3 linked regions of the Homo sapiens genome follow. The protein of the gene in region 2 interacts with the protein of the main gene of each other region in a biochemical or structural test. Each region holds a gene or a part of one and is shown on either strand. Other genes may lie near its edges. The genes, in order: CUL2, SENP8 and AKIP1.

Region 1 (3,600 bases), on a different chromosome or scaffold from region 2:
GCTGTAATCCCAACACTTTGGGAAACCAAGGCAAGAGGACTGCTTGAGCCAAGGAGTTCAAAACCAGCCTGGAGCATAGCCTGTACTTTCTCTCCTTCAACTGAATTAAAACAAGGCTGAGATATTTTTAAAAATTTACATATGGCAAATCCATGTTTCATTCTTTGAAAAGCAACCTACAATAGAGAAAGACTAAGTCACTGAATTAATAGATGTAACTAACATTATTTATAATGTTAAACTATATAAAAGAGGCCAGGCACAGTGGCTCACACCTGTAATCCCAGCACCTTGGAAGGCCAAAGAGGGCGGATCTCTTGAGGTCAGGAGTTCAAGACCAGCCTGGTCAACATGGCAAAACCCTATCTCTACTAAAAATATAAAAATTAGTCAGGTGTGGTGGCAGACACCTATAGTCCCAGCTACTTGGGAGGCTGAGGCAGGAGAATCACTTGAACCCAGGAGGCAGAGGTTGCAGTGAGCTGAGATCGCGCCACTGCACTACAGCTTGGGTGACGAGTGAAACTCTGTCTCAAACAAGCAAACAAGACACAGTATCAGTCTGAATTTTTAATTCTCCAGAATAACAAAGCTTAAAGCAAAAGGAAATATTCCACCTCTCCTCCTCCAAAAGAAAAATCAACAGGGTTCAAGGCACCCCGGAAGTTTCTACAGATCCAACACCACAATCTTAACCTAACACTACTACTGTCTCAAAACTTTTAAGAATCAAAGGGATTGTCTCCAATAAGCCTTTCCCAATGAAAAGCCAAATATAAAGTACTGATATAGAAATCTATACATTCTTAAAGGTAACCCAAAGATTATGCTAACTGCAATATGACAGATACGTTACCAGTAAGATTCAAACCCAGGCACAGAGCCAAATCACTCTGAATAGATATTGTGATTAACTGATTACTGAGAGAGGGTTCAGTCATACATCTCATAGATCAATAACTTGTTATAAATCTCATAACATTCCAAATCGCTGCTTGTTTTTCCAAGATTTAACATGAGCCAGTCATAAGTCCTCATAATATTAAGATTCTAGGGCTGATCCTGTCATCAATTTACTTAAAAACAACTGATAGTTGGACAGGCCTGGTGGCTCACACTTGTAATCCCAGCACTTTGGTAAGCCGAGGCAAGTGAATCATGAGGTCAGGAGTTCAAGACCAGCCTGGCCAACATGGTGAAACCCCGTCTCTACTAAAAATACAAAAAAATTAGCTGGGGGTGGTGGTGGGCGCCTGTAATCCCAGTTACTTGGGAAGCTGAGGCAGGAGAGTCTCTTAAATGCCAGAGGCGGAGAATGCAGTCAGCCGAGATTGTGCCACTGCACTCCAGCCTGGGTGACAGTGTGAGACTCCATCTCAAAAAATAATAATAATAAAAAATAACTGGCTGGGTGTGGTGGCTCACACCTGTAATCCCAGCACTCTGGGAGGCTGAGGCAGGCAGATCACAAGGTCAGGAGATTGAGACCATCCTGGCTAACACAGTGAAACCCCGTCTCTACTAAAAAAATACAAAAAATTAGCCAGGCATGGTGGCGGCTGCCTGTAGTCCCAGCTACTTTGGAGACTGAGGCAGGAGAATGGCGTAGACCCAGGAGGCAGAGCTTGCAGTGAGCTGAGATCGCGCCACTGCGCTCCAGCCTGGGCGACAAAGCGAGACACCGTCCCAAAAAAAAATAAAAATAAAAATAACTGTTAGGGCCAGGCGCGGTGTGGCTCACACCTGTAATCCCAGCACTTTGGGACACTGAGGAAGGCGGACCACAAGGTCAGGAGATCAAGACCATCCTGGCTAACACGGTGAAACTCCATCTCTATGAAAAATACAAAAAATTAGCCGGGCATGGTGGCAGGCGCCTGTAGTCCCAGCTACTCGGGAGGCTGAGGCAGAATGGTGTGAACCCGGGAACCAGAGACACAGCCAGACTCTGTCTCAAAAAAAAAAAAAAAAAAAAAACTGATAGTGCATATGAAACATTGCTTTCAATCACAGCCAGACATTTTTCCAGAATACACAAAGAACAGGCAGATAAGGTAGAACACAAAACAAACAGTGCAAACTTTTGTAAAGTCTCACAAAAAGAAACAGCTTTTTACAGCGAGGGAGGAAGGGCATAAGGGTTGAAAAACGGTTGGGTACTATGTTCAGCACCTGAGTGACGGGATCATTGTATCCTAAACCTCAGCATCACACAATATACCCGGGTAACAAACCTACGTGTGTACCTCCTGAATCTAAAATGAAAGTTGAAAAAGATAAAAATAAAGAAACAAGCAGCCTGGCCAACATAGTGAAACCTTGTCTCTACTAAAAATACAAAAATTAGCTGAGAGTGGTGGAGGGCGCCTGTAGTCCCAGCTCGGGAAGTGGAGGCTGCAGTGGGCTGAGATTGAGCCCCTGCACTCCAGACTGAGAGACTCTGTCTCAAAAAAAAAAAAGAAACAAGAAACAAGGCCGGGCACAGTGGATCACGCCTGTAATCCTAACACTTAGGGAGGCTGAGGTGGGAGAATTGTTTGAGCCCAGGAGTTCGAGACCAGCCTGGGCAACACAATGAAACTCTCTTAGTTCTGTCACCCAGGCTGGAGTATAGTGGCTCACTGCAGCCTCCACCTCCTGGGTTCAAGTAATCCTCTCACCTCAACCTCCCTAGCAGCTGGGATTACAGGCCTGCACCACCACACCTGGCTAATTTCTGTATTTTTTGTACAGACAGGGTTCGCCATGTTGCCCAAGCTGGTCTCAAGCTGCTGGGCTCAAGTGATCCACCCACCTCAACCTCCCAAAGTGCTGGGATTACAGGCCTGAGCCACCGTACGTGGCCGGAAACAGCTTTTTAAACAACTCCACACCTGTAGGTCAAAAACTTAACGAGACCAGCCTGGCCAACATGGTGAAGCCCCATCTCTACTAAAAATACAAACTCCAGCCTGGGTGACAGAGCGAACACCATCTCAAAATAAATAAATAAATAAATAAATGAACTTAACAAGGGCAGGGACCAAATCAGAAAATGCTGCAGTACTCCACAGTTTTATCCTCTTTCTACATTCTCTGTGTTCTCATCCTATTTCATAACTTAACTACTATTTAACACTCTAAAAAATACAAATGTCAAAGTAAAGTGTACTACTGTTTCTGCAAAGTGGGAACAATATTTGCTTATATGTCCACAAATATTTTTTTCCAAGGAGATCTAAGAAACAGCTAACAATGTTTGGCTCCAAGGAAAGCTGGATGACAAGGGTACAAGAAGTGGAGGGAGATTTTCATTCTATTCCCTACTGACAATTTTATATTTTGGTTTTCTGTTTGTTTTAGAGACAGGGTCTCACTCTGTCACTCAGGCTGGAGTGCAGTGGTGCAATCACAGATCACTGCCACTTCCAACCTGGTCATCTGGCCTCAGCTTCCCAACAGCGGGTACTACAGGCGTGCGCCACCACGCCTGGCTAATGTTTTTTAAATTATTTTTTGTAGACATGGGGTCTCACCATGTTGCCCAGACTAACATCTTAAATTTTGAGCCATGTGAATACAGTTTTTGTTCAAAACATTAGTATACCAATAAATAAATGC
Region 2 (3,827 bases):
AACTGGCTATGTTATTGGTAAGGCTATGTTATTGGTAAGGTAACGTGTTAATTGGCTATGTTATTGGTAAGGTTATTTGTAAATGTATATAATACATTTACAAAACGTGTTAATTGGCTATGTTATTGGTAAGGTATATATTATGCAGTATATAATACATTTACAAAACATGTATTAATTGGCTATGTTATTGTTAATTGGCTATGTTATTGGTAGTAAAGTTTTTTTTTTTTTTTTTTTTTGAGATGGAGTCACACTCTGTCGCCCAGATTGGAGTGCAGTGGCACGATCTCAGCTCACTGCAACCTCTGCCTCCTGGGTTGAAGCGATTCTTTTGACTCAACCTCCTGAGTAGCTGGGATTACAGGCATGTGCCACCATGCCCGGCTAATTTTTTTTTGTATTTTTAGTAGAGACAGGGTTTCGCCATATCAGCCAGGCTGGTCTCGAATTCCTGACCTTGTGATCCGCCCGCCTCAGCCTCCCAAAGTGCTGGAATTACAGGCGTGAGCCACCGCACCTGGCGTATTTTTTTAGGGAGTCAAATCCTACACCTAGGCTGGGTGCTGTGGCTCACGCCTGAAATCCCAGCACTTTGGGAGGCCAAGGTGGGCAGATCACTTGAGGTCAGGAGTTTGAGACCAGCCTGGCCAACATGGTGAAACCCCATCTCTACTAAAAATACAAAAATTAGCCGGGCGTGGTGGGGCATGCCTGTAATCCCAGCTACTCGAAAGGCTGAGGTGGGAGAACTGCTTGAACCTGGAAGGTGGAGGTTGCAGTGAGCTGAGATCATGCCATTGCGCTCCAGCCTGGGCAACAGAGCAAGACTCCATCTCAAAAAAAAAAAAAAAAAAGTTATACCTAGAATTTTGACTGCATACGGGGGTTGGCACTCCTAGCCCCTGTGTTGTTCAAGGGTCAACTGTAACTATAAGAAATTCTAGCTTATGTGCTACATGTAAACGATTAGTTAGAATGAGAACTGGAAACTTGCCATGTACACAGTAAGCATGAATTTTAAATATCCTCTTGAAGCACAGAGATTAAAATTATAGCTAATGTTTTACCAAACACCATACCATTAACTGTATTATTTGGCTCCTTAATGAATATGCATAATGACAACAAATTATTTTTATATTAAAGATGAATTCAAAGAATCTAAAAAGTTACTAATTTCCAAGGGAAATACTTTTCATTTCAACACTAATTTTCTTTTTCTTTTTTTTTTTGAGATGGAGTCTCGCACTGTCACCCAGGCTGGAGTGCAGTGGCGCGATCCTGGCTCACTGCAAACTCCGCTTCCCGGGTTCACACCATTCTCCTGCCTCAGCCTCCCAAGTAGCTGGGACTACAGGCGCCCGCCACAACACCCGGCTAATTCTTTGTATTTTTAGTAGAGACGGGGTTTCACTGTGTTAGCCAGGATGGTCTCGATCTCCTGACCTCGTGATCCACCCACCTCAGCCACCCAAAGTGCTGGGATTACAGACGTGAGCCACCGCGCCTGGCCTCAACATTAATTTTCAAAAGATAAGATAAAATATTGCTTCCTCCTTCCATAATGGAACGTGACAGTGATTACGGTAGTAGTTAAAAGGAACTGTAATTTTAAAAACAGAGAATCATGAGACTAATACAAATGAAATTCATTCCTGATTCTGCCCTGCTATGAGCATGAGTGATATAACATGTGTTTGCCTGTTTCATAGCTTTAGCTTCAAGGGGTATGATAAAGATGAAGTAATGTTTACAATATAAGTTAGAACTTCTTTTGACTTCTTTTAAAAGGTAGTATGGGATAAGATTCTGGAAACCTGGGTCTAGTCCTAGTTTTACCACTGATTTGCTGGTATCATCTTGAGCAGTCATTTAAATGACTTTGTCCTTGTTTTTCTAAAAAGGTATACGCCTTTTTTACAGATGGCATATAAAATCATTTAATCATTTTTGTATGCCATCTGTAAAAAAGGCATATACCCACCTTACATACCCTAGAGAGTTGTAGAGAAGACCAAATAATTTTACTTGGAAGTACTAAAAGAGTTTAAAAAGTTGTACAATAATATTTATCAATTAGATGACATTAGTAAGATAATCAGAAAATCCAGCTAGAGCTCCAAACCAATCAAAGAAAATGAGGTTTGAAAACAAATATCCATTCACATTATCTTGTCTAAATAAAAGAATGACTAATTTAGAGGAGAAGCAAGACAAGTTGTGTGATGAAATTAATATGCCTGTGACCACCCAAAGTGAGACAAGTCTGATGGGTGTAGAATATTTGAGCCTAACAGACTCAACAGAGTTAACAGAGAGTTAGCTGTTATGCAGTGACCTGGCAGCACGACAATATTTCTGAAAATCACACAGCAATAAACTGTCACATGCAGATTGAGAGTGCAAAACAAAGCATATTATAAGAAAATAGTAATAATGCTGTAAAAGACAAGACTAGAATTATGACATCAATTTAATCAATTCTGACCATTAGACCAGTTATTTTACCACTTGTCTACACTATTAAGCAATAATTTTTGTGATATAACCATTTTCGTGTAACAAAACGCTGCAAAAACCTATATGAAAAATCAATACACCCCTCAAGAAAAAAAGCCAAAGTAAATGAAGGGGCATCCAACATGGTTTTATGTAGACACAGTATGTCATAATCTGACTATTTGAGAAACAACATAAGGCTACTTATGAGAAAAAAGAAAAAATATATAATAAGATGGCATGAATTAGGATCTTCTTAAGAAAAAAAGACTAGTGGAGAGACATAAACTGGAGCCAAGAATGAAGTTAATGAGGCATAGAGCACATTTGTTATGGGTGGGCCACAAATTTGGCTCTAAGCTTTTTGGCATCTGGCCAGAGAAAGGTAAACATTCACAATGTCCATAAGACAAAAACAAAGCAATTGCTCAGGAGAGGTAAAATAATTCTTTGTATTATAGTCCGATAGTTTTTTCTCAAGAGATTTTCATAAAAGACATGGTGCATCATAACAAATAGTGCCTCACAGTATCCTTACAACAGATGAAACAGACAGGATTGTTTCCTATAATAATCTTTACTATCTAGCCTTATGGCAAATGGGCACAGATCAATCAAACAAAAGCAATTTGACAGAGTTTAGGTAATCAGCTTGTCGATGTGACTTGATGTAAGAGTTTATAATATAAAGGCAGAATGACTGCTCCCTGGCTACAGCATCTGTCTCTCATGTCTTCAATAAACACTGCATACTTGTGAGTGCCAGGTCATATAGCTTGGCAAAAACCCGGAGACCTACTCTCTACACTGCCTGCTGAAATCACACCCAGTCTTCAACACCAACCCAACTAGGGAAAGGAACCTGCAAGAAGACTGCCTCAACAGTCAGTCATCTCTCACCTTGAAGGGAATGTCCACAAGCTGGGCTAAGATTTTCTTCAGAAATAGTTTTTGTGTTTTGTCTGTTTGATTTTTAAAATACCAAGCACATAGACAAAATGTTAATCAAGGCCTTAATTCTGTTCCATACAGCATGACAGCAAGTTTAACTCCAAAAATTCTAATGCAAATAGAACTCAACTAGCCTTTAGCCAAACCCACCCTTTGCCAAAAATAACTCTAAACTTCGTATTTGAAGACTTAAATTTTAGATTCAATTCTGTTACTCATTGGCTGTGTGATCATAAATAAATTACTAAATTTCCTTAACTCTCACTTTCCTTTTCTGTAAAGTGAAAATATTTTCTATTTTTATTTTTTATAGTCCAGAGTTTTTTTTTTTTTAACACCTACCAGCAGCCCAGGCTTCTTTCTATTATTTCTCA
Region 3 (3,827 bases), on a different chromosome or scaffold from region 2:
GAAGCAGCCACTAAAACACATCTTTAGGTCTGTGTCCTCAAGTGCTTTCCCCAGCTTCTCGTTCTTCTGGTCACATGTTTTTTAGACAGTGTGCCTACCCTGTTCAAAACAAGCAGGGCTGTGATGTCATTAGTCATTATCAAGGGCAAGTCTAAGGCTAACTTTGAGGGGGAGGAAGGAAGCAGACAAGAGAAATGTAACTGTTTTCCGATCTTTCGGAAGATTCTTCTTAAATTAGAGACTTCTCCCTCCACTCCCCCACGCGCAGGAAGCACAGAGAAAAGGGCTGCAGAGCAGCTCTTGGGTTTGTTTCATTTCCTGCTGTGTTTCTAAATCTCAGGAAAATGTACCCCTCTCTTCCCGTGTCCTGGTCTGAGACTTAGACAATAAACATGGAACCGTTCATCCACATTTTTTAGGGGAGGAAATGAAAGGATATGTGCATTGGACATGGGGGCAAAGATGTGAAATTTGTTTAACCTGGCAGAGAGCATGGTCCTGCCCACCTTTAGTTAGCCAGCGTTCTTGCCCTATGGAGGCAGCAGGTGGCAGCACGGGGATGCCAAATGCATTTCTTTCTCTGCAGCCACTTTGGGTGGGCTAAGGTTTGTTGCATGACTTCAGAGGCCTGTCAAGAGGGCAGGTAATTCACCTTTGCTCTCTTGCCTCCCTCCTTAACTGCACTTTGCCCAAATATCAGGGTTTTTTGAAAATTTGACAAGACAATTTGGTTAGCTAACATCTTTGACATTACGTCTCTAGAAATATTATTCATCTGTGCCAGAGGAAGGAGGGGCAACCCATGTCTATCGTTATCACAGAGGCGAGTCGAAGCTGCACATGTGCTTGGACATAGGGAATGGTCAGGTAAGTGTACTCAACTGTCCTGCACCATGCCTTCAGTCTACCAAGATATGACACCCTATATTCAAGAGCCCCTGCTAGACTTTGTGTCACTGGATGCCCGTGTGACTTGGCATTACAGTGCTTAACAGAAATGTGTAAATTCATAGCCTTAGAGAACTTACAGCAATGAACATGAAATAGGAGGTTGTCAAAAATATAAGATTGATGCCACTGTAGGATCTTTAGTTGAACCTGCAGTCCTGGGCCATGGGATTCTCCAGCAGGTTTAAAGAAAAGAGCTTCCAAGCCTGGAATGTGGTGTATGCAATGATCGCCCCTGTGACTATCCCCTGCATTCTATCCTGGGCAACATAGACCCTTTCTCTAATTTTTTTTTAAAAGAGCTCTAAATATCCTCTTCTACATCTAGGGATAGGATTTTTTTTTTCTTTTTTTTTTTTTTTTTTTTTTTGAGACAGGGTCTTACTCTGTCACCCAGGCTAGAGTGCAGTGGAGCAATCATGGCTTACTGCAGCCTTGACTTCCTGGGCAGGTGATCCTCCCACCTGAACCTCCCAAGTAGCTGGGACTACAGGCACATGCCACCACACCCAGCTAATTTTTAATGTTTTTAATAGAGATGGGGTTTTGCTATGTTGCCCAGGCTGGGGGAAAAGATTTTTAATAATTACATTTTTTACTATAAGGTGATAACTGTCATGTCTTTGGTAATTTTTTTTTTTTTTTGAGAGGGAGTCTCACTCTGTCACCCAAGGTGGAGTGCAGTGGTGCGATCGCGGCTCACTGCAACTTCTGCCTCCCAGGTTCAGACAATTCTGCCTCAGCCTCCCAAGTAGCTGGGACTACGTGCACACACCACCAGCCCAGCTAATTTTTGTATTTTTCTTTCTTTTTTTTTTTTTTTTTTTGTGGAGTCACAGTCTTGCTCTGTTGCCCGGGCTGGAGTGCAGTGGCACAATCTCAGCTCACTGCAAGCTCTGCCTCCCTGGTTCACGCCATTCTTCTGCCTCAGCCCCGAGTAGCTGGGACTACAGGCGTTGCCACCACGCCTGGCTAATTTTTTGTATTTTTAGTGGAGACGGGGTTTCGCTGTGTTAGCCAGGATGGTCTCGATCTCCCGACCTCGTGATCCGCCTGCCTCGGCCTCCCAAAGTGCTGGGATTACAGGTGTAACCCACCGCGCCTGACCCATTTTTGTATTTTTTAATAGAGACAGAGTTTCACCGTGTTGGCCAGGCAGGTCTTGAACTCCTGACCTCAGGTGATCTGCCTGCCTCAGCCTCCCAAAGTGCTGAGATTACAGGCGTGAGCCACCATGCCTGGCCCCTGTCTTTCATAATTTTTAAAAAGAAAGTACAAGGGAAGTGTGGGGACGGGGGTCTCTTTTAACAAAATACTTTTTGTAAAGGTAATAACAGTTACGGGCCTCTCACTACAAACTTACCTTTTACCACATGTCATTCTGGGGAAGCCAAAGATTCTGCTTATTGAACTGATTCAAAGGAGGAGGTGGTGGTGGTGGTTTCTGAGGAGACTAGGTTTTTGCTTTTGTTTTAACCTACCCTACTTGTACTCAAAGATAGCAAACTGAAGTCCAGAGTCTATTCCAGAGTCTAAGTTGGATTCCTGACTTCTTTGGTCTGTCAGCCATTTTGGGGTGTTAGAGGGAGGAAGTTTAGGAAAAGGATGGGAGAGTGGGCACAGGGACATGAGCAAGGGCTGAGTGCACACTCGAAGCACCTCCCACATGCCTCCCCTGGCCTGGGAGGTGAGTAGTGGTGCCAGAGCTTGAGTCCTGAGCCCCCTTTTCTGGCCTAGCCTGAACTCTTACCTAAACGCACCTGACCCTAAAGGGTGCACTTAGGTACATGTGGGGAAGAGTCGTTCCCATCTCTCCCTTTAAAATGTAAGTTCCCTCTAAGGGAAATTGGCTTTATCAGTCAGCCTGTTCCCTTCTAGGACCACCCCCACTCCTAGAAGAAGCACAGAAGAGAATGTATTGAGAGCCTAAGTGCCACTTTTGCACTTTAAATTTTCCCTGCAATCCAAGAGTGCCATGTTACAGACTGGAAAACCAAGGTTCAAGAGAAGTTAATCTGTCTTAGTAAATAGCAGAGATAGGACTTAAACTCAGGCGTGGCTGATTCCAAAGCCCATGTAAGGATGAAAATTATAGTAAATACCTGACTAAAAATACCTCACAGAATTCACTTAAAAATGCCTTAATGACTTAGATGACAACTTAGAAAAAGCTGACAGAACAATTACTAACTCCTAATAAGGTAGAAGAGAACTTCTCTTTACAATCCAAAAGTGAAAGCTTGGGCACAAATCAGTGTTCTACTTGTCTCTTCAGAGAAAAGACAGAAAAAAGACATCCCTTGGTCCTGGAGGCAGCTATCAAATATCAGAGCATGCTCCAGAGGCATCCCAGCCTGTGAGTACGGAACTGCTTACGCACTGGGTTTCACCACCGTTGCAACTCCATGAACCAGTTGACATGGTTCTTAGAGGGCTATTTGAATTGAGTCTATAGTATTTTTAAGTTGAGATGTTCTTACACTTAAGAAGGGCACACAAGATTTTGGTTCAGTGTAAAATTAGGTTTTCTTGGTATTCTTCCTTCACTCTAAGCTTCAGGGATACTCTTTGTGCCTGAACTCATAGTTGTGGTTGGAAAGAATGTGAAGTATTCACCTCTCAGTTCCTACAGCTCAGCTGGGCTGGCACTGGGTCCTGCTGGAATTCCACCATCTGTTCAAGCAGCAGGAGGGGCACGATCCTCCTGCTAACAAAGTGAAAACCATTGCTGAAATTCCGAAACATACACATTTGGTGAGATCAGGTTCCAAAACATTTGAAGGCATTTGTTCTTATTTTCCACAAATGTTTCTCTGTAAAAACATATAATGAGTTTTTCATTTTTAGGATAAAGTACTCATTAGGTCATGAAGCCAGGG

What was found.
Region 1: of the proteins of SENP8 (region 2) and CUL2, one has a biochemical effect on the other in vitro, tested with the Homo sapiens proteins (one study listed by BioGRID).
Region 3: the proteins of SENP8 (region 2) and AKIP1 form a complex in vitro, tested with the Homo sapiens proteins (one study listed by BioGRID).

Annotation. Positions count from the first base shown.
Region 1 is NC_000010.11:35,083,742-35,087,341, forward strand, and holds part of CUL2 (cullin-2), read right to left. Parts: intron 1-3,600.
Region 2 is NC_000015.10:72,135,380-72,139,206, reverse strand, and holds part of SENP8 (sentrin-specific protease 8), read right to left. Parts: intron 1-3,827. UniProt on the Homo sapiens protein: Protease that catalyzes two essential functions in the NEDD8 pathway: processing of full-length NEDD8 to its mature form and deconjugation of NEDD8 from targeted proteins such as cullins or p53.
Region 3 is NC_000011.10:8,914,064-8,917,890, forward strand, and holds part of AKIP1 (A-kinase-interacting protein 1), read left to right. Parts: intron 1-762; coding exon 763-867; intron 868-3,223; coding exon 3,224-3,304; intron 3,305-3,827. UniProt on the Homo sapiens protein: Enhances NF-kappa-B transcriptional activity by regulating the nuclear localization of the NF-kappa-B subunit RELA and promoting the phosphorylation of RELA by PRKACA.